3 separate regions of the Homo sapiens genome follow, and regions 2 and 3 are each linked to region 1. The links come from fine-mapping of genetic effects on gene expression. A gene starts in region 1. Each other region holds a variant in brackets. All regions are shown on one strand. Distances are from middle to middle. Region 1 holds the start of RFFL (ring finger and FYVE like domain containing E3 ubiquitin protein ligase). Region 2 overlaps SLFN13 (schlafen family member 13). Region 3 overlaps RFFL (ring finger and FYVE like domain containing E3 ubiquitin protein ligase).

Region 1 (7,738 bases):
TACAGACATGTGCAGCCTTCTTGGATCCTCCAGCTCAATCAGCATCATATGGGACAAAAAAAAATATGTCCTCCTTTCCTGAATTACTAACCCACAAAATCATAGGCAATAAAATGGTTGTCATGTTATGCCACCAAAAGTCTTCGGGTAATTTGTCACACAATAGACAACTGAAACAGTCAGAAATTCAACACTCTCTTGGGCAGTCATTCAAACATTTCCCCACTTTGATGATCAAAAAATTCTTTCTCGTATTCATCAAAATTGCTCCTCCTTCAATTTAAGACCATTTCCTCTTAAATCTTTGAAGTTCATGAAGAATAATTAATAAAAATCCCCCTGGCAAAACTATTCTTGTATTTGAAGATGATAATGAAGTTATCTCTTAGCTTTTCTTTCTCTAGGCTAAAATCTTTCCCCCCTTTTTAAAACTTATAATGATAAGACCTGTTTTTCAACCTTTTAATCATTTTAATTATCCTCTCAAGTATGAGAGACCCAAAATTGAACACCATATGCCAATATCTAACAGAGATTATTTCCTAGCTCTAATGGTTCAGCTTTTTATAATGGAATTTCTCATAGTCCCAAATATGGCATTTTAGCACTCCAAAAGTTGTGAAGTGATCTAAAAAGTTAATTACTTACTATAACTGTAAAAGGTTTTCTGCCCTTAACACTCAGCTTACTCCATTTTGGGATGACCGCTTTCACTCACCAGCCTGGTTTGATACTCCACCAGGGCAGCAGGTTTTCACAACTTCCAGATATTTGAAGTATAAAAGAAAAACCTGAGAGGTTGGAGTACGCACACCATTAATTTCAATCAAGGTCTCTAACCACAACCAGGGCCTTCCCATAGGTCAGGCAGGTTCAGAGTACCTCCTCCTCCTACCTTGATGATAAAGTGGCCTTGTAAAAGGCAAGACCGTTAGCACTTGCCTATCGAGCAAAGGCACCATTTCTGTGGAACCTGATAGAGTATATTTAACTACTATATTAAGAGACAAACCAGCTGCTTAATGCAGTGTAAGAACCATGTTTTCTCTCTGAGTCTTACCTAAATGTATATATGCTTTGGTATCAGACTAGCTTTATAATCACTGGTAAAATAGGGATAATAAATAAAGCCTACCCAACGCAAATAAAACCATATGAGGGAAATAATTTTGTAAAACACCATAAAAATGTCGTGATATTGCGGGACTAGATCTCAGCAAACCCTTTAAATCTTCAAATTAACTTTGAATGATTACTTGATGGTGGCAGGTAACACATACAAAATAAGCAGCCATGGGCTCATGTTCATCAAATAGGAATGAAAAACCATGCCATCTAACAAAAAAGCTTCTAATATTGCAAAGAATAACGGTTTGAGCCCGGAGATCCACGTCAGCCACTCTCTCTGATGGTGCCAAGCTCTAGTCCAGGGACACCAAGTTCAGTCAAAGAACTCAACAGTCTAGTGGAAGAGACAGACAGTGCTGTCTGTCAGAAAAGACAGAGAAGTCAGAGAAGATGCATATATGAACTAAGTGTCCTGAGGGATGAGTATCTTGCCAGTTAGAGAAGGGAGAGTCCATTGGGAAAAGGCAGAGTCCTAAAAGACATGGTATATCCATGGAATGTTAACATGAGAAGTTCAGTGAAGCTGGAGAGGAGAGAAATGGCCAGGGGAGAGGGAGATGAGATGGTTAACAGCAACATGTAGGAAAGAATCCAACTGTGAAAGCTTTTAGAAGTCAAGCTAAGTGGAAAACAGGGAACAAATGGCACCTTAAATGAAAAGATTAGATGTGGACTTTAAAAAGATAACTTGGGCAACAATATGGAGAAGATAGGAGCAAGGAAAGACTTATGGAGGAGTGGCCATTTGATAAGGGTCTGAACTAGGAGTTACAAACTCAAATTCCTAGAGGCAATGCAGGTAAAATGCTAAGTCTTCAGTGTGTAAGATGTCAGAAAATGGTGGTATCCGTAATCTTTGAAGAGTACAGGCCTTCTCTCTGATGGTGCCTAAAAGTATTCACACACAAAATTTTAAGCCCTTAGGCTGACTGATTGATTTTTGGGATGGAGTCTTCTTCTGTGCCTAGGCTGGAGTTCAGTGGCACAATCTCAGCTCATTGAAACCTCCACCTCCTGGGTGCAAGCAATTCTCTTTTCTCAGCCTGCTGGGTAGCTGGTACCACAGGCACTGGCCACCATGCGTGGCGTGCCTTTTTTTTTTTTTTTAAATACAGACAGGGTTTCACCATGTTGGCCAGGATGGTCTCAAACTCTTTTTTTTTTTTGATATGGAGTCTCACTGTTGCTCAGGCTGGAGTGCAGTGGTGTGATCCTCGCTCACTGCAACCTCCACCTCCTGGGTTCAAGTGATTCTCCTGCTTCAGCATCCTGAGTAACTGGGATTATAGGCACGTGCCACCACGCCCAGCTAATTTTTTGTTTTTAGTAGAGATGGGGTTTCACCATGTTAGCCAGGCTGGTCTCAAACTCCTGACCTCAGGTGATCTGCCCACCTCGGCCTCCCAAAGTGCTGGGATTACAGGCGTGAGCCACCGTGCCCAGCCTGACTTTAAACGTCCAGTTTTGACCTCTGGTAAATTAAGGCAATGACAGTGGGAATGAAGAAAAGCCACACATCAAACAGTACTCCAACAAAATCAACAGGGTTTAGCACATTTAAAGATGTGAGCATAAAAAGAATGAACAAGGCCGGGCGCGGTGGCTCACACCTGTAAACCCAGCACTTTGGGAGGCCAAGGCAGGTGGACCATGAGGTCAAGAGATCGAGACCATCCTCGCCAACATGGTGAAACACTGTCTCTACTAAAAATACAAAAATTAGCTGGGCGTGGTGGCACGTACCTGTAGTCCCAGCAACTCAGGAGGCTAAGGCAGGAGAATCGCTTGAACCAGGAAGGCAGAGGTTGCAGTGAGCTAAGATCACACCACTGCACTGCAGCCTGGGTGACAGAGCAAGATTCCTCTCAGAAGAAAAAAAAAAGAGTTGATGAGAGGATCAGAGTTGAGAAAGTACAGTACAGGCTCTTGCTCATTCTACCCTTACTGAGAACCTACTATGTGCAACGTACCATGGATACAATTCTAGCAAAGCAGACCCTGATTCTCAATACATACTATGATTGGAGTAAATACCAGGTTCTCCTGAGTACTCAACCCTGGTAAGTAAGAAGAGGCTTCATGGAAGAGGTGACTTCTAGGCTGAAACCAGTTGGCCAGATTAAGCTTGGGGAAGGTGTGTAAAAGAACGCTTACATATGCTAAGGTCTGAGGTGAAAGAGAACGTGGGCAATTTGTTGGAATTATAAGGAGCAGAAACGTAATTTGGAGGGTGACGACTACCTAGAGATATCATAGTCTGATTAGGTGAAGGACTCAAAAGTTTGGCGATGAAAAGCAGGAGGGAGATAGAGTAGTAGCCTAGTAGAATTAGAGATGAGGGAGGTTCTTCCTATTAATTCAGAAAGGAATATGGGAACAAACTCACTGATAAGACAGTGTTCTCCACAACTCAATATTTAGTTATTAGGAAGGCAACCAAATGCCTTCACTTCTTTTCCTTTAACAATGGCTTAGTTTGACTAAAGTGTTTCTCACAAGATACACACAAAAAAACAAAATACAAGAGCAAATGACGGATAAAGCTGTAAACCTAACGTTTTACTTTTCTAAGATTTATATAATCAGTGATTTAATTGGACCTAACTCCACATCCAGAACTCAAATGAAAGAAAACTTCTGGCCGGGGGCCGTGGCTCATGCCTATAATTCCAGCACTTTGGGAGGCTGAGGAGGGTGGATCACCTGAGCTTGGGAGTTCGAAACCAGACTGACCAACACAGCAAAACCCTGTCTCTACTAAAAATACAAAATTAGCCGGGCATGGTGGCGCACATCTATAATCCCAGCTACTTGGGAGGCTGAGGCAGGAGAATCACTTGAACCCGGGAGGTGAAGGTTGCAGTGAGCCGAGATCACACCATTGCACTCCAGCTTGGGCAACAAGAGTGAAACTCCGTCTCAAAAAAAAAAAAAAAAAAAAAAAAAAAAAAAACCTGACTCACTTCTGAAGACAGGATTTTCCCAGTTTCTAATGCAGCTTCATCTAGCTAATGAAACTTAAGAAAACAGTTTGAGGTTACCTGATTTTGCCAGTTTCAAAACATTGCCACGACAGAAAGCAAGCTGTCTCTAGTTCCTGTGGCTGAGGTCGCTGGAGCCATGTTCAGATGAGATCATCTCAGGAACCAAGAGCAGCGGCTTTCATGTGAAGTGAATGGTGCCGCCTGGGGATGTATCTTTGGTAAGCAAGATTGCAACACAGCAGGGAGTTTACCCAGGGCAGTGCTGACTCACGCTGGGCAAAATTTGTACTTCCCAAACAACTCAGCCTGAACCAACCGCAGTCAACTGCAACCTAGGAAAGAAGAGGCAGCTCACTGATTGTTTTAAATCAAGTGCTGATTACTGGGGGCAGGTAAACCTCATTCCCCCACTACTGGTAACTTGGCCACCTCCAGAGCCCTTACCCAAAAAGTTCCAGTGGCCAGTTTCTAAAATTTCATCTGAGAACAGGCTGGGGCTGGGGCCAGCAAGATTACTGAACATAGCAGGTTCACAGCTCTGAAGATTTCCCCAGGAGGCTGATAAATAAGTCACTTTGCATTTACAAATTAGAACATCTGGGTCAGTGGACTCAGGGAACTTGCCCAGTCATCATTAGCCAGTCAAATCATTAGGGTGAATTTTTGTCAGTTCTAACCAGGCTCATTGTTCTTTTTTCCCACTAGGCCTCCTCTGACCTCTCTATTTCTTCAGACAACTCAAGTTCTCTCATTAAGATAGATGCACTGGAATTTTTTTTTTTTAATCAGCTGCCACATTCTCTATGCTAAAGCCAAATCATTTACCATCACACCTACTGGATGCATAGGGAATACAGAAGACTATGAAAATCACCTTAACACTTGCTCTGAAAAGAGACATCCCTAAATTTATGTCAATTCTCATTTATTAGCCTGCTTATTTAAAAAATCAATCTAGAATGACTGGCTCATCAACAGCTATTAATTACTGAATTTGCCCTGACAGGCTAGAATTGACATTGGTGTTATACAAAAAAAAAAAAAAAAGATCAAGTCCTTGCTTTTTGTGTGCTTTAATTTGACAAGAGAGAAACTAAAGTTCCTATTAGATCCTTCTGTTTCCTGCTTAAAATGTATGACAGTTCCCCAAGGCCATCAGCTATTTCTTAGCAGGGCATTTGAGGCCTCTGCACCCAGCTTCGTTCATCCTTTAAGGTAGGTCTCACATGGCATGAACTCTGGATGTAGCTGCCAACTCAGCTTGTCATTCAATAATGTTAGGTTAATTAAAATGTACGTGCAGACAGAATTTGAGTTTAAAAACTATACTACTTAATTTTCTATTCAAGGGGCTAGTTTTAAAAAGTTATTTATCCAACTCACTTAATTCTCCTTAATTACATTATTCCAGTAGGATAGCCACGCTGAGCTTTGATAAGGTATTATAAAATGTTCCCTGTTTTATTTCCTCCCCTTCAGTGTTTTCCTTTCAGAAAATGGCTTTGTTTAAAGAAGTTTCCCTATAGTACATGTTAATTAGTCCTTTCTGAATGATAAACACATCTTTATAGCAGCTGACAACCATTATCTCTTCAACCACACTTTAAAAAAAATTTCTGTAGTTGATGATAAGTTACAAATTCTAGTATGAAACAACTCTCAAGGTACAGACAAATATGGAACCTCCTTCAGAAAAAAAAAAAATGATTAGAAAAGCTCCTGACCTGTTCTGTATTTGCGAACTTTAAATAAGAGGGCCGGGCACAGCGGTTCACGCCTATAATTGCAGCACTTTGGAAGGCCGAGGTGGGCGGATCACCTGAGGTCGGGAGTTCAAGACTAGCCTAACCAACATGGAGAAACCCCCATCTCTACTAAAAATACAAAATTAGCCAGGTGTGGTGGCACATGCCTGTAATCCCAGCTACTCGGGAGGCTGAGGCAGGAGAATCGCTTGAACCCGGGAGGCAGAGGTTGCAGTCAGCCAAGATTGTGCCATTGCACTCCAGCCTGGGCAACAACAGAGCAAAACTTCGTCTCAAAAAAAAAAAAAAAAAAAGAAAGAGAAAATCCAGACAGTACTATGCCCAGGAGACAGATACGAACTATATAAAGAGCAGCCTGAAGGCCAAAGGCATGGAACTCCTAAGTTGACTAAGAGAAACACCATTGAGCAAGTGAACAGAGCTGCTGCAGCTTATCATTCCCCTCTTTGGGACTCTGATACAGTTTTAACCAACTGCCCCAAATTATAGCCACACTCCATCCTAGTTCTTCCTTTTAAAGTGGAAAGGTTGAGGATTACATTTTAGAGCTTAAAAAGGTACTCGTTTGAACTAGTGGTTTCAGGCACTTGAGGATTTATGAGGTTACATGAAAATTATGAGAATATGAGGCTATGGGAGAAATAATAACTGTGGCTTTCTGACTAAGTTCTTTCAATACATTATTTTAAAATTAGCCAGGCATGGTGGCATACACCTCTAACCCCAGCTACTCTAGAGGCTGGGGCAGGAGAATCACTTGAACCCAGGAGACAGAGGTTGCAGAGCCGAGATTGCGCCACTGCAATCCAGCCCAGGCGACAGAAGGAGACTCCATCTCAAAACAAAAAACAACAAAAACAGAAAATACGTTATTTTAAAACTCAAGTAACTTAACACCCAAAACTATTTATGCTTTTTTTAATAGGGTGGTCTCAACAGATATTTAATGAGTGTGCATATGTGTATGTGCCCATTGTTTCATTTGAACAGACATATGTGATGTCATTGACATCCCAGATTTACTTTCTTTTCTGCAATAGATCTTGACATTATAAACAATAAGCAGGTTTCAAAAGAGAAATTAAAATATCCATTTCTCAGGATTCTGTAGTCTTCCAAATCCACAGAAAATTACCAAATACATACAGAAGATCTGGGAGGATGCACACAGCAGGGAGAGCACTGTAATGGGAATAAAGATCAAATAGCTATGTTTAGCTTTATCCAAATTACCCCCCAAAAATCATGAATTTTTTTACAACAAGCATATATTCAAATATGACTTGGTAGTTTAAAATTCAGTTAAAATTTTAAAGTTTGTATCACTTACAAACTGCTTTACTCTCTCTTCACACTCTTTCCTCTCAACATCTCCCTTTTATCTACTTCCCTACCCCCAGCATCCTAAATGATACTGCACATTTCTTGTTTTTAACAAAATTAATCTTACTTGTGTCCACATCCTTTTTCTAACTGAGAAGTCGGTGAATGGATAAATGCACATTTCCAGGAATCAGTGCCTGTCTCACCTTGTTGATAATTAATGATTGCCAAATTCTAATCTTGGTGTTCAGTGACCTCACAGCCTTTTTTTTTTTTTAACTATAGAACATAGTATTTAAGAAAAACAATATGATGGCAACCAAATATTTATCATCTAATAAATCACAGAAATTAAACATGAAAAATGAAGTAAACTTTATGATACTCAACAATTAACTCTAGGGGTACTTAAGAATCAACAGGGGTGCTTATTGAAAATGAACATTTCTCATCCCAGTCCCTCAGACACTCTGAATTAGCAGACATGGAGGGAGGCCCCAGAAACTGAATTTTTTTTTTTTTTTTTTGAGACGGAAT
Region 2 (7,738 bases), 380 kb after region 1:
TTCTCCTCTTGGCTTGTAGGTGGCTGCCATCTCTCTGTGTGCTCCCATGCCCTCTTGTTTGTGTGCACAGGGAGGAAGGGAACAAGCTCTCTGGGGTCTCTCCCTATAAGGACACCAGTCTTAGCAGATCAGATTCTCCACTGTGACTTCGTGTAACCTTAATTACTTCCTTAGCAGCCCCAGCTCCACAGTGAAGGTTGGGGCTTCAACATGGGAATTTAGGGGTGAGGATGGGACACAAACATTCAGTCCATAACAATGGCCCACCAAACTATGAAAGCAAATAGAAAAAAAAATCACAGTTCAAGAATGACATAAAACTTAAGTAGTTATGCTATAGAGTAATGCATACAGCTACGCTGAGATGTTACAATGTAACAACATAAACTCACTGCATTTTTTTTCTTCTTCTTCTTTTTGAGACAGTCTCACTCTGTTGCCCAGGCTGGAGTACAGTGACATGATCTCAGCTCACTGCAACCTCTGCCTCCAGGATTCAAGTGATTCTCATGCTTCAGCCTCCCAAGTAGCTGGGATACAGGCATGCACCACCATGCCCTGCTAATTTTTGTATTTTTAGTAGAGATGGGGTTTCTCCATGTTGGCCAGGCTGGTCTTGAACTCCTGACCTCAGGTGATCCACCTGCCTCAGCCTCCCAAACAGCTGGGATTACAGGTGTGAGCCACCGTGCCTGGCCAACGCTCATTGATTTTTAAAGAAAATCTTTCCCAAGTTTGTTCACCGTACATCTGATACACACTTTCAGAACCAGATTTGGGTTTCTAATATTAACTTCTACTGAAAGCCAGCATTTTCTCTTGGCCTATAATTTCTCTGTAAAGGTACCATTAATGTTCACTATTACAATTAAGCCTTGGTCTGGGTTATTCTGATAACAAACTCTGGAGATCACAATTTTAAGGATTAAATAATCATAACAATATTGTTTGTTCTGCCGAAATGATTAATCTGACAGTGACTGAATTATCTTGGGACTCTCCCAAGCCCTAAATGAATACAGCAAAGATAAATTCAGGAAACAACTGCTTCTCCTATGGCCTGTAAGCTCCTAACAGACCATGCTTCTGCAGAAAACAATTCTGGACAAATTTTTTAAAGCAACAAACTACACGAAGTCACATAAAAGAACTCGAGAACTCCAGCCTTGGAAGAAAGGCCACAGGCTGAGTTTCTTATTTTTATGGCTTTTACCCAGAGAGCAAGACACAGGTCTGCATTGTGCAGCACAGCTAAAGTTCCTTTAGAAAACCACCATCTTTCTGGCTGCAAGAGTCAGGGGTCAGAATGGGGGGCAGCCACCACTGCTGAAAAGAGTTGGGGGAGGAACCCCTGAAAGGAGAGCCAGAAATGGGGGAGCTCCAAACTCTTTGTGTCAGCTCTGTCCAAATCTCTAACTGACTTGTGAACTAAAAAGAAAGGTTTCTACCATCAGCAGACTGTCACCCATAGACATTTACACAGTATTTTGGTTTGGAGTTCTTCCTAATAGTCACTTCACAGAAAAATATATAGGTGCTGTTTTGCCCTGGAAGCCAGACAGATCAGAATATTGGGTAAGATAGCTGGGTCAGCTGTCCTTGGATGGATCCCAAACACTATGCTCCTTTCCAGGCCTGAGAATCGCCGGACACTGTCCAACACAATGTGCACACCCAACATATCACATGCATCACTGAGCTGCACCACCATTTTCTTCCTCATTGCTTTCAAGAGCTTAGACTGATACTGCTCCACTTCTGTCACGGTGCTGACAAGCACAGCAACATCCTTTGGAGAATAGCCCCTTTCAAAGAAGCACCTGCAGGTGTCTGCCACATAGGTCACTATTTGCTCCAAAGTAAAGTTTTTAATAATCTTTGTGTTGCCTGGAACACCTGGAACCCATTTAGCTTCACTGAGAATTGCCAGATACCCATGGGGGATATTAATTGGAGGATTTTCTATAATTAGTTGCATTTCTTGTTGTATGTACTCGGCTATTTCATCTGCATTGCGAACTACTCTGGTGAGCTCTTCTCTTGGATACTGTGCTGAGAGAGGGGGAAGGCCACTGTGACCCAAGTGACTGGTCTGAAAGTAGTCCAGAAAGATCCAGAGAACTCCTGGACAATCCTTTTCTCTCTGAGTGATGGTTTTTGCCTTCCTATACCAGTCCCCATCTTCAGTACGGAAATTCTGAGCTTCGTCAATGACGATGTGTTGAATGTGTTCAAATTTTTCTCTTAGGAAAGTTTCCCGGGTCTCTGCTCGGCAGATATTTCTATCACTGTAAAAATTAAAAGAATACACTCAGGTTTTCTCTAAGAAAACAAGGGGAGAAAATGATTGTATCATGTTCCTCCGAGCACAGTATATTGCCACAGATCATTTTACCACTCAATTCTCAAGGAAGAAGGTGACTTAGCAGAAAAAATTAAACCCAGATTAAATAAAACTTAAAGACGTAAGATCCAACTGCTTACCTGATAAAGTTCCTCAGAGGCTGGTTTTCACAAACGTAGAGAATTCTGTGTGCCTCACAGTGAAACACATTCCTGATCTTCTCCATGATCTTCATGGCCATGATGGTCTTCCCTGAGCCAGGTAAGCCGTGGACAAACAACTCTCTGTTCTTGCGGAGGCTTCTGGAGAATATCTCATACTGCTGGGCTGTGAGCAGATTTAAAACCTCACAGCCGAGCTGGTCACTCAAGAGAGACCTGAAGCCGAGTAAGACAATCACGAGGGACTGCAGCAGGGCTTCCATGTGCTGGGTGCCTGCAAGGCTATAGGACGCAGGGTAATCCATCGGAGACACTGCAGCCTCCAAGGCCTCTGCGCTGCTCTCAGGACTCAGGCAGAGGACCTTGGCCCTGACACACACCTTCCCGGTGTAGCCCCCCATGTTCACTAGCTTCTGCTTCAAAGTAAAGGCGGTGC[G/A]AGTGCAGTAGTCCTGGCCCTCTGCATCCTGCTCCCTGAGAATGGTGTAGAGAATGGGGGTGCTGTTCTGTGCTATCAGCAGAGCATCACAGATGACTCCTGGCTTCTCCTGCAAGTTCAGGTCCACAGCCCAGCTTCTAGAGAGGATCACAATTCCCTGGGAGAAAGGTCGCATTTGCTTGTGTATTAACTCCTTTAGTCCTTCATGCTGTAAAGACAGCTCCTTCCAGAGGGACTCTGGAGTACATTCCAAATGTCCTGGTGGAACTAGACAGGAAGAAAATAGAAAGATGTTTTCACTGTGTTTATGTGATTTTGTATGAATCACATGTTACATTTAAAAGACAGAGGAAAGCCCCCAAAGAATTGTACAATTTAACAGAAATTCCTTCTGGTGCATCTCTGGTTTTTTGTTTGTTTGTTTGTCTGTCTGTCTGTTTTTGAGACGGAGTCTCGCTCTGTCGCCCAGGCTGGAGTGCAGTGGCCCGATCTTGGCTCACTGCAAGCTCTGCCTCCCAGGTTCAGGCCATTCTCCTGCCTCAGCCTCCCAAGTAGCTGGGACTACAGGCTCCTGCCACCACGCCCGGCTATTTTTTTGTATTTTTAGTAGAGACAGGGTTTCCCCATGTTGGCCAGGATGGTCTCGATCTCCTGACCTCATGATCTGCCCGCCTCGGCCTCCCAAAGTGCTGGGATTACAGGCATGAGCCACCACGCCTTGCCTGGTGCATATCTCTTTAACCCACAACCTACAAATCTGGTAAAATGAATGATGTCACCCTTCTATGTATCTCATGGACAGTGGAGCATGTCAACTGAAATGCAATTTACTGAGCCTGAGAAAGTGAAAGCCATGTATTCAATTACTCTTGCACCTTGGATTCTTAATGTGGAATGTTTAAAAACTTTTCTGATAAGCTAATGACTATAAAGCTCTCAGGTAAGTAAAGAAACTATTTGGTGGTAAACAGACCTAAGGAAGGCCTAATATATGAATTACCTTGCCCTTCATAAATGTTTGGACATACGTAGGATATTTGTGTATCATATTCTTTTGTCAAATCTCATACTTAATATGTTCAATGTATGAAGTTAAGCCATTTCCCTCCTTGAAAAATCTAGGTTTCATTTTGTAAGTAGGAACTCCGAGAAAAAAACCTTGCTAAAAAATGTTTGGGCAGCAGGGAGAGGGGTTACATAACATTGTCTATGGGCTTGAATTATTATTTGGTGCCACCTTTGAAGCATTAGCGAGTCGTTCCCTCTAGCCTCTTCCAAAGAGAAATTATTTGTGGTTTTTCTATATTCTTATATTCTACCAGGTGAATGTTTTTATTCCTTTTACAGACATAATTCCTCCATCCTTGAAAAGTAGACCAGAAGTGGCTAGTTATTCCATTGTTCCCCTTGTAGTTGTACTAGATCACTGGTTTCCAAACCCAGCAGGGCATCAGAATAATTTGGGAAGCTTGCCCAAATGCATATGGCTAGGCCTTTCCCCTGGAAATTAAGCGTTCATAAGTTCTTGGTGTGGGCCTGGAGATCTGCATGTTTAACTACCTTCCATGGCATTTCTAATAATCAGCCAGATGTGGCAACCAATGGGCCAGATGATTTCTAAAGGCACCTGAAACTCATCCCCAAGAGGCTTGTGGCATTGTCACTGTGTACACCTGGATCTGCAGGACACAATCTTTCATGGATTTGTTTTCCACGAAATGTATTAAATGACTTCCTTCTCTCCTGATGTAAAAACTGGCAGTCAGTACCTGGAAATAAATGTTGTTGTAGATCAGCTTTGTGTTCCAGACCTTTCTTAGAATACACTGGTCTGCAAAGTGAAGGACTGTCAGATAGACTCAACTGAGACTCAAAGGCCTCAGCAAAGTCTGGAGGAAACTCTGAAAGAAAGAACATTTTAATTTACACTATATGATTTCATGTCTCGCTATTGGAATAGGCTGTACAAGGCTGTGTCTAAATTTCATCTAACATGGTACAAGTCAGGCCACAAAGTCAGATGCTTTACCCTTTCTTGACTCTATGTCCAGGTTCCCAAAGATTCATCATTAAAAGCCCTTTTTCTGATCCTTGAATGGTGTTTCCCCATGCAATATAATGCCCCCTCTTCCATGTTTGAATAGTTCTTTGCTTGAATTGCAGTGGAAAAAAACTCTCTTTAAGTTATAATCATCAGGTTTTTATATCCCTGTGCACGCACCTCCACTAACCTCAACTTAAACAAACCTCAACCAACACTAGCTCTTGTCTCCCAGAGTTGATTTTATGCTAATCTGAGGTACAAGCTAATCACTATTATGAGGCTCCAACAGATTCCAATTCAATGGTTTTATTAAAGGAACCAATTTCCAAGGTTTTTCCTTTGCTTCTTCTTTTGTGGGAAATCACCATTCACAAAATATCTCATTTTGGCTTTTTCTCACCCAATAAAACTTCCCATCTATGAAAAGCATGGAGATTTAGAGAAAGTAAATTTCAGTGGGTGTGAGAAGGTCAAGCTTAGAGAATAAAGAAGGAAGTGGTATTGGGGAAGAGGTAGAAAGGTCAGGAAGGGAGAATCTGGTTCCCTCTTACCTGGATCTGCGTCCATCATTTTCTCTACCCATTCCTCAGTTGTCAAGGGGCGGATGTACTTCTCCCTCACCATCCATGACTTGGGAGCTTCCGAGAACACCACACAACAGAATGCCTTCACTTTAATCACACAGAGATAGCCATACAACTCTTTCCCACAAAACACTTCTACGATTTTGGTGCTGTACTCTACCCGAGGTTTTGAAGAGCAAAAATGAACAATGGGCAACTTAGAAATTGCTCTTGCAATTACATTTTTCAAAGAGTCAGGGTCAACCTGTTCTTTGGCACATCCCAGGACTTTCCTACTCTTATCATCCACTCCAATAAAAAGATAGCCTCCCTCAGTGTTTGCAAATGCAGAGATGTACTCTGGAATTATATTTTCTACATATTGTTGGATATGTTTTGTAGAGAACTGTTTAAACTCTATGGATGGAGACTCAGGAAAAGATAGGATTTCACCATATTCAATAGTGTCAGTTTGGAAAACTTCATATGCAGGATTTGACTCAGATATGTTCTGGTATACAGCTTTCATAATTTTACTAGGTGGAGACCCTTCATTAATCAGATTATATTTGGACTGTCTTTCCTTGGTCTTCAGGAAATCGAATGCCTGTCTTGAATTCATGTGAAGCACAGAGGTGCCAGATCTACAGTATAATGAAGAACTAAGGCTGCAAATGCGGGAATTGAAAGAACCATCTTTAAGGAAAGGATCACCACTCCAAGATTTAACAAAAATATAAAAACACCTTCCGTGTTGCTTAGTCTCAAAGAAAGCCTGCAAATATGGATACTGAATAAGCTTTCTCAAGGATTCTTCTAAATCCAGTCCCATCTCTGTGGGACGCTCATCCCTGTTGGCCATTTCCATCTGAATCACTCCTCCTCCTGAGTTTAATAAAGCACACGCGGCCCGTATAACTCTCGCCCTCTCTTGGTCTCTCTGAGTTTTCTGTAGCTTTTTTCTGTTTTCTTCTCCCAGAGTCACTTCTCCGACATCGATGACCAGGTCTGGGTAAGATGGATACACACCCAGGGAGCAGTGATTTGCCTCCATGTTGAACTTGCACCTTAAAGTATTAGAATATTTGTTTCATTTTTGATTAAAAAATTGTTACAGGCCTGCAATTCATTTATTAGAAAATATTTAAAACGTGTCTAATATGTGCTGGGATAAGACAATAGCAAGAAAGACAGGTATAGTCTCTTTAGGAGCTGACTGGCTGGCAGGGAAGGGAACTAATGAAATTAGCCTTTACCATCATCTGTGACATGGGCTCTAAGAGGGAAAACACATTGAATAGGGTATCTGAACGAATCTGGAGACCATGGTTCCATAAGACTTCCAGGAGTAGGTTCCATTTAGGCCAAGACTTAAAAGATGCACTAGAACTGGCCAGGTGAAATCATTAGCATTGAAACACAGAAGTAGTGGATCAGCTGAGGGGCATGTGTACCATGGCATGAGAACATCTAGGTTTGGAACAGATTCTCCATGAACATCAACTTTAGAAGATAAGTAAAAGAAGACCACATTGAAAAGGAGACTGTAGAAAAGTCTGAGTATGAAAAATCAAAGAAGTAAGAGAAAAATCAAGGGTATTTGGTATTAACAAAGCCTGGAACAAAGTCACCTGCCAAGGTTTTAAGATGTCTAATACTGCTGACAGATACAGCTAGGTAATGACTGGAAAGTGTTACTAAACCTAAGTTTAGTAAAATTAAGGTTAACTGTGACTTTGAAAAATGCTCTTCAGACACCTGGGAAATGGGCATCAGGAGGCAATAAACCAGGGGCTAAGGTCTTGGAGAACAGAGTCAATGAAGATGGCTTGAATTCCAGTTCTGCCATTTAGTACTGTTATATTAGTCTAGATATTTACTCTTTCTAACTCTATTTTCTTACTATAAAACATGGTGCAGCCACCTGTGACTGTTATTATGAAGATTAACTCAGATAGTTTACAACAAGCATTTAAAACTATGCTTTGGTTCACAGGTGTTCAGCAAAGGAACCTATATTAATTGACATTATTTTACAATGGGTTGAGGAATGAATGAGAGGTAAGGAAGTAGCATCATCAAGTGTACACCTGCTGTCTTCTTACACCAAAATCAGTCCTGAAGTACCTGTAGGCAGAAACATGTTTAGAGAGAGGCAGCAGAGTTCAGAGGTCAAGATTCAGAAATAAA
Region 3 (7,738 bases), 42 kb before region 1:
TGCCTGGCTAATTGTCTGACCTCCTTCCCTTGACAATGGCTACAGTGTGCTAGAAGCAAGGAAAGAACAAGACTTTAACAGCAGGACCACAAGCCTGCCCTCCGGCAGCTCTTAGAAAGTCAAGAGACTGGAAATACAATGGGCCATGAGGCTTCTCCGTCTCCACTGTGACCTCACAACTCCTTATAAATACACTGACCGCTTCACTAGTTAACCTGGAACACTAACACTAAACCCTACCCCAAAAATATAATTTCGGAAGCACTATCATCACACATTTATTCTCTCTCCACTCGACTCTGCTAAGAGGTTCCGAAGAACACCAGTGAAAGAGGAAAGGTGAAGACACAGACCCAAGCAGAGGCCCCACCTGGGTCTCATCCTCAGCAGGTACTCTGGCCACGCTCTCCAGGTAGACGGGTTCCTCTTGATCCTGAGACACATGGCCATTGGCCTGTGGGAAGAGAAAAGTAACATCACATCTAGAGATGTCCCAGAGATCTGCATAGCATGGGCCTCTTTTCAACTCACACAATGTCCAGAATGTACTCCCATCATGCCCAGAAATCCGGAGCCTCTTACAGCATCATTACAAAAGCCTGCTCTCTCATACCAACTTTGTCAAGCAGAGAAACAACAAAAATACATTTCAATAGACAAAGCTGCCCTCTAGAACAAAACTGCATTAATTCTGCACACACCAGGATGGCAGTAGCCACAACTCATCATCAATTTAATCTCAGCTTGAGCACCACAGGTGAAGGGAAGGTCATTGTGTCCATTCCACTGCTGGACTGCTCTCTATCTGGCATCAAGGTTTTTCTTGACACTGATCCAAAATTGCCATCCCTATCCCTGGTTCTGCTCCTCAGACCATAGTCTCCTGGGGTTTTTGTTTGTTTGTTTTTTGTTTTTCCCAAACTGTTTATACCATGTTTTCCCCTCCTTCACACTAAATCTCCCTGGCTTCCTTATCTGACACTGATGGGACAAAGTTTCCAGATCATCACCACCCTAGTCTCTTTCTTTTCTGCCTAGTAACTACTCTCACATTCTGGAAATGTGCTCCCCATGTTGAGCACACTATTATTAAGTGCTATGTCCAGACCTAGTCAAAGAGTATTTTAATGTATCTAAGAATCTATTAGCCTAACACTATATAAAACACTGCCTATGCTTACGGAATTTCATTATGCTTAGAATTCTCACTTCTCAAAAGGTTCCTCCTGAGTACTCTTTTAGGAGGTTTGGCCAAAGAGTAGGCAGAACTGTTAGCCTCCTAATTCCATCACCATTTAAGCCACAAACCCCTTAAGTAGATCCTCTTCGCCCACTGCTCCCTGCAGGCAAAGGGCCTGCTGTGAGCTCAGAGCAAAGAGGTGTCTGAGCTCACAGGCCTTTTCCACCAGATTCTGGGGATGCCAGTGAAGGGACAATCTGGGAAACCAAAGACACCCACCGACCCCAGCCACTCACCCCACATTAGGATTCATAATATGGAGCTAATCAAGAAGAGGCAACCAACTGCAATGGAAATGAAAAGCAGAAGTAACAAAATGCCAAATCAAGGCAAGATCAAATGCATAGTACACATGTATGGGGATGGATCCAAATCAATGTCTTCATCAACAACGTTTTCTCTTAGCTTACTGTAGATCCTCACTGGTCTCTCAGGTAGTGTTACCTTGGAATTACCCTGGAATCCTTCAGAGCCTAACCTGTTCCTAAGTAGCTATCTTTCAGATGTCCTGTTTCCTAGAAAGAGAAACGACCTCATGCTGCAAAGCATGCTCTTGTCTTTCCAGTTTGCCCACTGGCTAAATAAAAATCCAAAACTAGTACCTGTCCACAGTTGTGCTTATTGTATATACTTCCTTGCCTAGCAACTATTGATTGCTAGGGCACTAAAGGTGAAAGAGAGAACTCTGGTTGAGCAAGTATTATAAGGAAATTTACATTCTAGGTGCAGCTCACTTATGAACTTGTCAGACAGTACTGCGTAAGTTACTTAATTCTTCCATGCCTGTTTTTCCTGCTTGCAAAGTGCAGCTCTCACCAGAACAGGGGATGTAAGCAGACACTAAGGTCTCTTGAAAATCTCAGAGGAAAAGTACCCACTTAGATCTTGTATGTAGGGTGACCTTTAGGTGCAATCTGGAAATTTCTGGTTAATGACAGGAAGCTTATCATCTTTCATTGAAAAATCTACCTGAAAAGTTTGCTTGGTTTTTTGTTTTTGTTTTCTGAGACAGGATCTCACTCTGTTGCCCAGGCTGGAGTGTGGTGGCATGATCATGGTTCACTGCAGCCTCGACCTCCCAGGCTTAAATGATCCTCCCACCTCAGCCTCTTGAGTAGCTACAGGCACCCACCACCACGCCCAGCTAATTTTTGTATTTTTTGTAGAGACAGGTTTTTGCCATGTTGCCAGGCTAGTCTCAAATGCCTGGGCTCAAATGATCCGCCTGCCTCAGCCTCCCAAAGTGCTGGGATTACCAGGCATGAACCACCACGCCCAGCCAAGGTTCTTTACAGAAAAAGAATTCCTCAAGTTCTTCTCCTGGCTCCTTATACATAGAGTGGAAAAAAAAAAAACACAAGCAAAGGGAAGAATATATAGCAGGAGTTTAAATCTGTCTAGCAGACCAAGAGTCAGAGCTTAGGAAAGAATTAAAGTCCAGCTGCGGAGAAAAACATGTTCAGGCCAAAAAGGGAGTTAAATGATTTTACTGCAGTTAAATTATGCTATCACATTGGCCTTTATGCCTCAGTGGTTGTCAAGAGCTGAATCAGGGGGCCCAGTCCTGGCAAAGGAGGTGATCATAAACAAGTGGCAGCAGCCATCCACATCATGTGTGGGAACCAACAGCACTAGCACTATACCAGCTCTAAGTAACTCAGAGCTCTTTTAGACATGGTATCACGCATTCAGGTCTCTCAACATCCTGGCAAGATCAAAAGTGGTCTGTGATTACTAACCTCATTTCATTGTTGTAGGCTCAACATTTGCCCAAGGGGATCAAGAAGTCAGTGACAAAAGTGGATGTGGAAATTGGATCTTGTAGTTCCTAATTCCCCCATATTGCCCAAGCCCTATAGATCAAGGGTCCCCAACCCCTGGGCCACAGACTGGTACTGGTCCATGGCTTGTTGGGAACCCGGATGCACAGCAGGAGGTGAGTGGCTGGCAAGTAAGCATTACTGCCTGAGCTTTGCCTCCTGTCAGATCAGCGGTGGCATTAGATTCTCATAGGAATGTGAACTCTGTTGTGAACTGCGCATGCGAGGGATCTAGGATGCATGCTCCTTATGAAAATCTAACTAATGCCTGATGATCTGGGTAGAATAGTTTCATCC[C/A]AAAACCAACGCACCCCAGTCTGTGGAAAAATTGTCTTCCACAAAACGAGTCCTTGGTGCCAAAAAGGTTAGGGGCCGCTGCTATAAATAACAGAGTCACTTAAGGCACTTATGCAACATCATCACTTCTTATACAACAATTATGTCCACTGGCCTCACTCTAATCCAGTAGTTAGTTGGTCTACCTGTCTACCTTCCCTCTTCTGGGGGCTTTTTGAGGACAGAGACAGTTTATTACTCATTTCTATACTCCCCAGACCTGGGTCATGATTCAGTTGATGTGCTGCTCTTAGCTTACCACTTCCAAGCCCCCCAGGATAATGAAGAAGCAGCATGCAAGTACAGCGTGCCAACTACTCCTGCTTCCAGCCAGTGACTGGTAAGAGAAGCAGTGTCTTTGTCTGTTTCCCCACCCTCCCTTGCCTCCATATAGCCCTTTGCTTTCCTATATTCCTTGTGATGGTTACTAAGGAACTAAGTTTCCAATCCAGCCAATGAAGACTGCAACAAAGGAGTTAAGTTGAAAGACAAATTGGAACAGAACTAAATTTGATGGCTTAATGGTTACTTTTCTCAAAATATTTCTGGAATGATGAACTTTAAAAAATGTCTAACTAGGATATGTGTGTATTAAAAACAAAAAACAAACAAAAAAATTGGTACTGTGCATATCACCTCTGAAGAAAGCCAAAACATGAGTCTGATACCCAGAAAACACTTGGTGCACCAGTAGTCAGAAAGGCTTCACATAATCAAGACACTTAGCCTTATACCCCATTCTCACAACAAAGGCAGGAGAGGAAAATGAAAATGAGCCCTCAAACTGGCACAGACTGGCAGAGACTACAAATGGGCCCTTACCTGCTGATTCTCCTGAACCTGGGCTGGGGGAACAGAGGTGGCTTGTGCAGATGAAGAGGGGAGGTTGGGTGAGGTAGGTGGAACCATGCTGGAGTGAGGCTGGGTCAGGAAGGCCTGCTGCTCAGGAAAGTCTGGGGACAAGGTGGAGGCACGAGTCCTGTCCTCCTGGGAGATTACAGGCTGCTGGCCAAGGACCAAGAGCACCAGCTCTTCTTTCTCCCGGCACATTTCGGTAGAGATGTCATGGAGGCTGAGATAGTCCCTCAAGTCCTTCACCTTCATCTTCATGAGCTCCTCTCGCTGAAAGGCTGTAGCTCGAAACCGTTGGCAGAGAAGGCAGAGGCGGGGCCCATTCCCTACTTGGCTCGAACAGGTCATGCAAAAATTTTTCTTACAGTCCAAGCAGGTCTGCTGCTTAGAGCAAAAGACACAGGAAACCATGTCAGATTGAGAGAACAAGACAGAGAGTGCGATGGGAGCTTCAGAGCTGCCAAGCCCAGCAGGATCTCCTCCAGTCACTCTTACTTTTACTAAGCTCTCTCATATATCTAAGGGTGCAAGCCACTTTCAGATTTTAGATTAAAAGCCACTCGGGTGGAAGACCTCCACTATGTATTGTGTATATCCATGTACAGGACACTTCACATTTATTATTTAATTTGAGGCTTACTTTATTTACTCCTGAAGCACCTGAGGTATTAATTAAGACTACCAGCATAAGAATCAAAAAGCTCTGCATTTTTATTAAGCCTCCCTCCCTTATTTCTTGCAGTATCACCTTGGGTGTGTAATTTAGCCTCTCTGGTGCTCAGTTTCCACATCTGTAAAATGGGGGTGATAACAGTATCTACCTCATGGGGTTGTTGTGAAGATTAAGAGAGAACCCATTTAGCATATCTAACACAAAATGAGTCCTCAACAAGTGTAAGCTGTTTTATTATAGCTAGGAAATATTACCTAACGGTGACAGCCAGGATTCAAATCCTAAACTGTAATTATTTCTGCATGAAGGTTATGGTGGTGGTGGTTGTTACAATTAATATTAATTTATTGAGGTGCTTCTATATGCTAGCTTGTCATTTAATTCTCAAAGCGACATTGCAAAGTAGGTATTAGTGTTCTTCCCTGATTCACAGACAAAGCAACCGAGGCTTAGGGAGATCAACTGTTGTATTCAAGGTCAGGCAATAAACAGGAGAGCGGGTATTCACACTCAAGGTCTGTTGGAGGCTAATGCCCATGATCACATTCTTTCCACCAGGCCATACTGCATAGCTCAGTTCCATTCAAGTACAGAGCAGTTCTGAGTCAAGGGCCTGGCTTCCATCTCCAAATTCCCCACCCACTGCTCCATCGACACAGGCTCCCCACTCCAGGAAGGCCCACTCAGAGTGCTGGGAACCCAGTGGTGCTTACAAGCATATCCAAGACAAATATTTAGACAGCAACGGGAGGCTGTCTGGACATCAGGGTACTCTCGTTCCTGAAAGCACAGAGTGTCTCAGTTAGGCAACAAGAGCGCCTGATGGGCAAGCTGGTACTGCCTGGCAGCAGCTAGTCTGGCAGTCGCTGACAACACAGGAAGGCTTACTCAGCCCACAGGAAGCAATCCTCGGCCTCTCACCCCACAGGCTGAGTGAGCACAGTGACATCCGGCTGAGCTCTGTTCTGGCCAAGAGCATGTCACATCCCCAACAAGAGAGGTAATTCCTGAGCACACTGGGATTGGCCTGGAGGGCACCCTCATTAATCCTTTAAAGAAGTTAAAAACTTTTCATCCTGTGTTGACTTAAGTAGTAACTTAAATATTTCTGGTCCATCTTTTCGAAATATAGAAAGATATTCAAGCTAAAAAAGAAAGCTCAAGAGACAAGATTCTCATAGTCAAGATCACAGACACTCTGGGCTGAAGTAAATGTCTGCATAGTTAAGATAGTTATATAAGTTTTGTCTAAGTATCATTCACATAGTAAAGGGAAAAGGAAATAATATTTACCACCCAGTTTTGGCTATTAAGACTTAGAAGGCATTGCAAAGGGACATATATCAAGCTCCCTAATTCTCCATACAGTTATAACCAAACAATACTGTTCAGAGATGGACTTAAAAGGATGCATGGCTGCACTAGCATTGTAACGGTTCTGGGACCAGTAGCCATGCAGGCAGAAAATGGATGTTTTCAGGTATTTGGGGTTCATTCACATCTAAAGCTTTTCTATTGGGAAATGAAGTCTGTTTAGGATGACTGAGACTGAAACAAAGAGGCTTCAATGCCATAAACCTGTGGGCCTGACATGGAATATTACTTAAGTCGATGCAGTCTGACAAGACCTAGCTTGACACAATTATAAAGCCTGCGTTGCTCAATCAGCCAGATCCAAACAACTCTCTATTCTTTCTTCAAATGTGTGTGGCTTGCTGGATGCAAGATCAGAATGCAGACAACAACCTAGCTTCTATGCACCCGCTGGCTCACAGGGAACTCTGAAATAAGCTGGCATCTGAAACACACCCTACAGGAACAGGATAGGGCTTGAGGCTAAAACCCCAGTTTGCAGTGGCAGAAGAAAACAAGAAGAAAGGAAAAAAGGGCTGTCAACAAATGCAGGCAGAATGAGCAAAGGACACACTTATGTATAAATTCTGCCGAATGGTTCAAAACAACTCAGTAACCAGGTAGCATGAAAGATGAATTAGTGGAGGCAACCAACATGCCTGCAGAAATGCCCAGGGTGTACTGAGATATCCAGCATCACAGAACTGGCCGTGGCGCCTCAGGCCGACACCACCCTTCAAGGATGCCGTGTGCAGGGTTCTGCTGGCTCCCGTTTGCCAACTGCCCTTCCCTTGCTCCTACTCCCTCCCACCCTATTCCCTGGAATATGGGAAGTATTACATGAGAGAATGTATATAAAACCTTAGCACAAAGTGGATGCTCCAGAAAAGGTAACACGGTTACCTTTTTCTTTCCCCTTACCAGCACCTAAGACCCAGTCCTCTCTTAACACTCTGAGATCTGAATATCACTTCCATGGCTCCAAGCATAACCTCATCCTCCAACTGGTCCAACTAAAGAGGCTGGGTGCCAGACTCCCTCCAAAACCGTCAGGGTCGCTGCTAAACCACAGGGAGGTATTACCAATAGAGATGGGGTATTTGGCTTGTGGCAAAAGTACAGCCTGCCATTTCTCTTTAGGACTGAAAACTCAGGGAATGCAAGGGCCACATCTTACTTATATTCTGTCTATAAAGTCCTGAATGTTATCTGTGCTTTGCACCCAATAAGCATTCAGAAAGTACTGACCATAATGAAGAATAAGGAAAAGAAAAAGATAGTAGGATCCATGGAATCATTTCAATTCAAGCACTTCTAGAAAAAGACATTTTGAAAGCCCCTGGGTGTTAAATGCCAAACCCTTAAGATAAGAATGCTGATCCACTTAAGCATGAAATTACAAATGAAAAATTCTCATAGATGAAAACACCCTTAATATTCACAAAATTCACTGTAAATTGCACA

The links. PIP is the estimated chance that this variant, and not a neighbour inherited with it, causes the effect. A credible set is the group of variants that fine-mapping cannot tell apart.
Region 2: its variant is the best candidate, but not a certain one, in a credible set for the expression of RFFL in whole blood (INTERVAL, PIP 0.87).
Region 3: its variant is the best candidate, but not a certain one, in a credible set for the expression of RFFL in whole blood (TOPMed, PIP 0.86).

What each region holds. Positions count from the first base shown.
Region 1 is chr17:35,059,407-35,067,144 of GRCh38, forward strand. RFFL (ring finger and FYVE like domain containing E3 ubiquitin protein ligase) reads right to left here and starts at 4,301. Exons shown (of 7, transcript NM_001017368.2): 1 at 4,170-4,301. The region is part of intron 5 of RAD51L3-RFFL (RAD51L3-RFFL readthrough); the gene reads right to left. RefSeq lists enhancers at 3,852-5,051, 4,138-4,933, 4,383-4,482 and a silencer at 4,073-4,142.
Region 2 is chr17:35,439,079-35,446,816 of GRCh38, forward strand. SLFN13 (schlafen family member 13) reads right to left here. Exons shown (of 6, transcript NM_144682.6): 3 at 5,537-6,615; 4 at 4,711-4,842; 5 at 2,485-3,208; 6 at 1-2,288. The coding sequence starts at 6,602. The coding sequence ends at 1,517. Among named protein-coding and RNA genes, the nearest start is that of SLFN13, 5.8 kb to the right of the region's middle. The variant G/A (reference allele first, on the strand shown) is at 2,942.
Region 3 is chr17:35,017,153-35,024,890 of GRCh38, forward strand. It overlaps RFFL (ring finger and FYVE like domain containing E3 ubiquitin protein ligase), which reads right to left. Exons shown (of 7, transcript NM_001017368.2): 3 at 4,219-4,629; 4 at 371-454. The region is part of intron 5 of RAD51L3-RFFL (RAD51L3-RFFL readthrough); the gene reads right to left. Among named protein-coding and RNA genes, the nearest start is that of LIG3, 41 kb to the left of the region's middle. The variant C/A (reference allele first, on the strand shown) is at 3,358.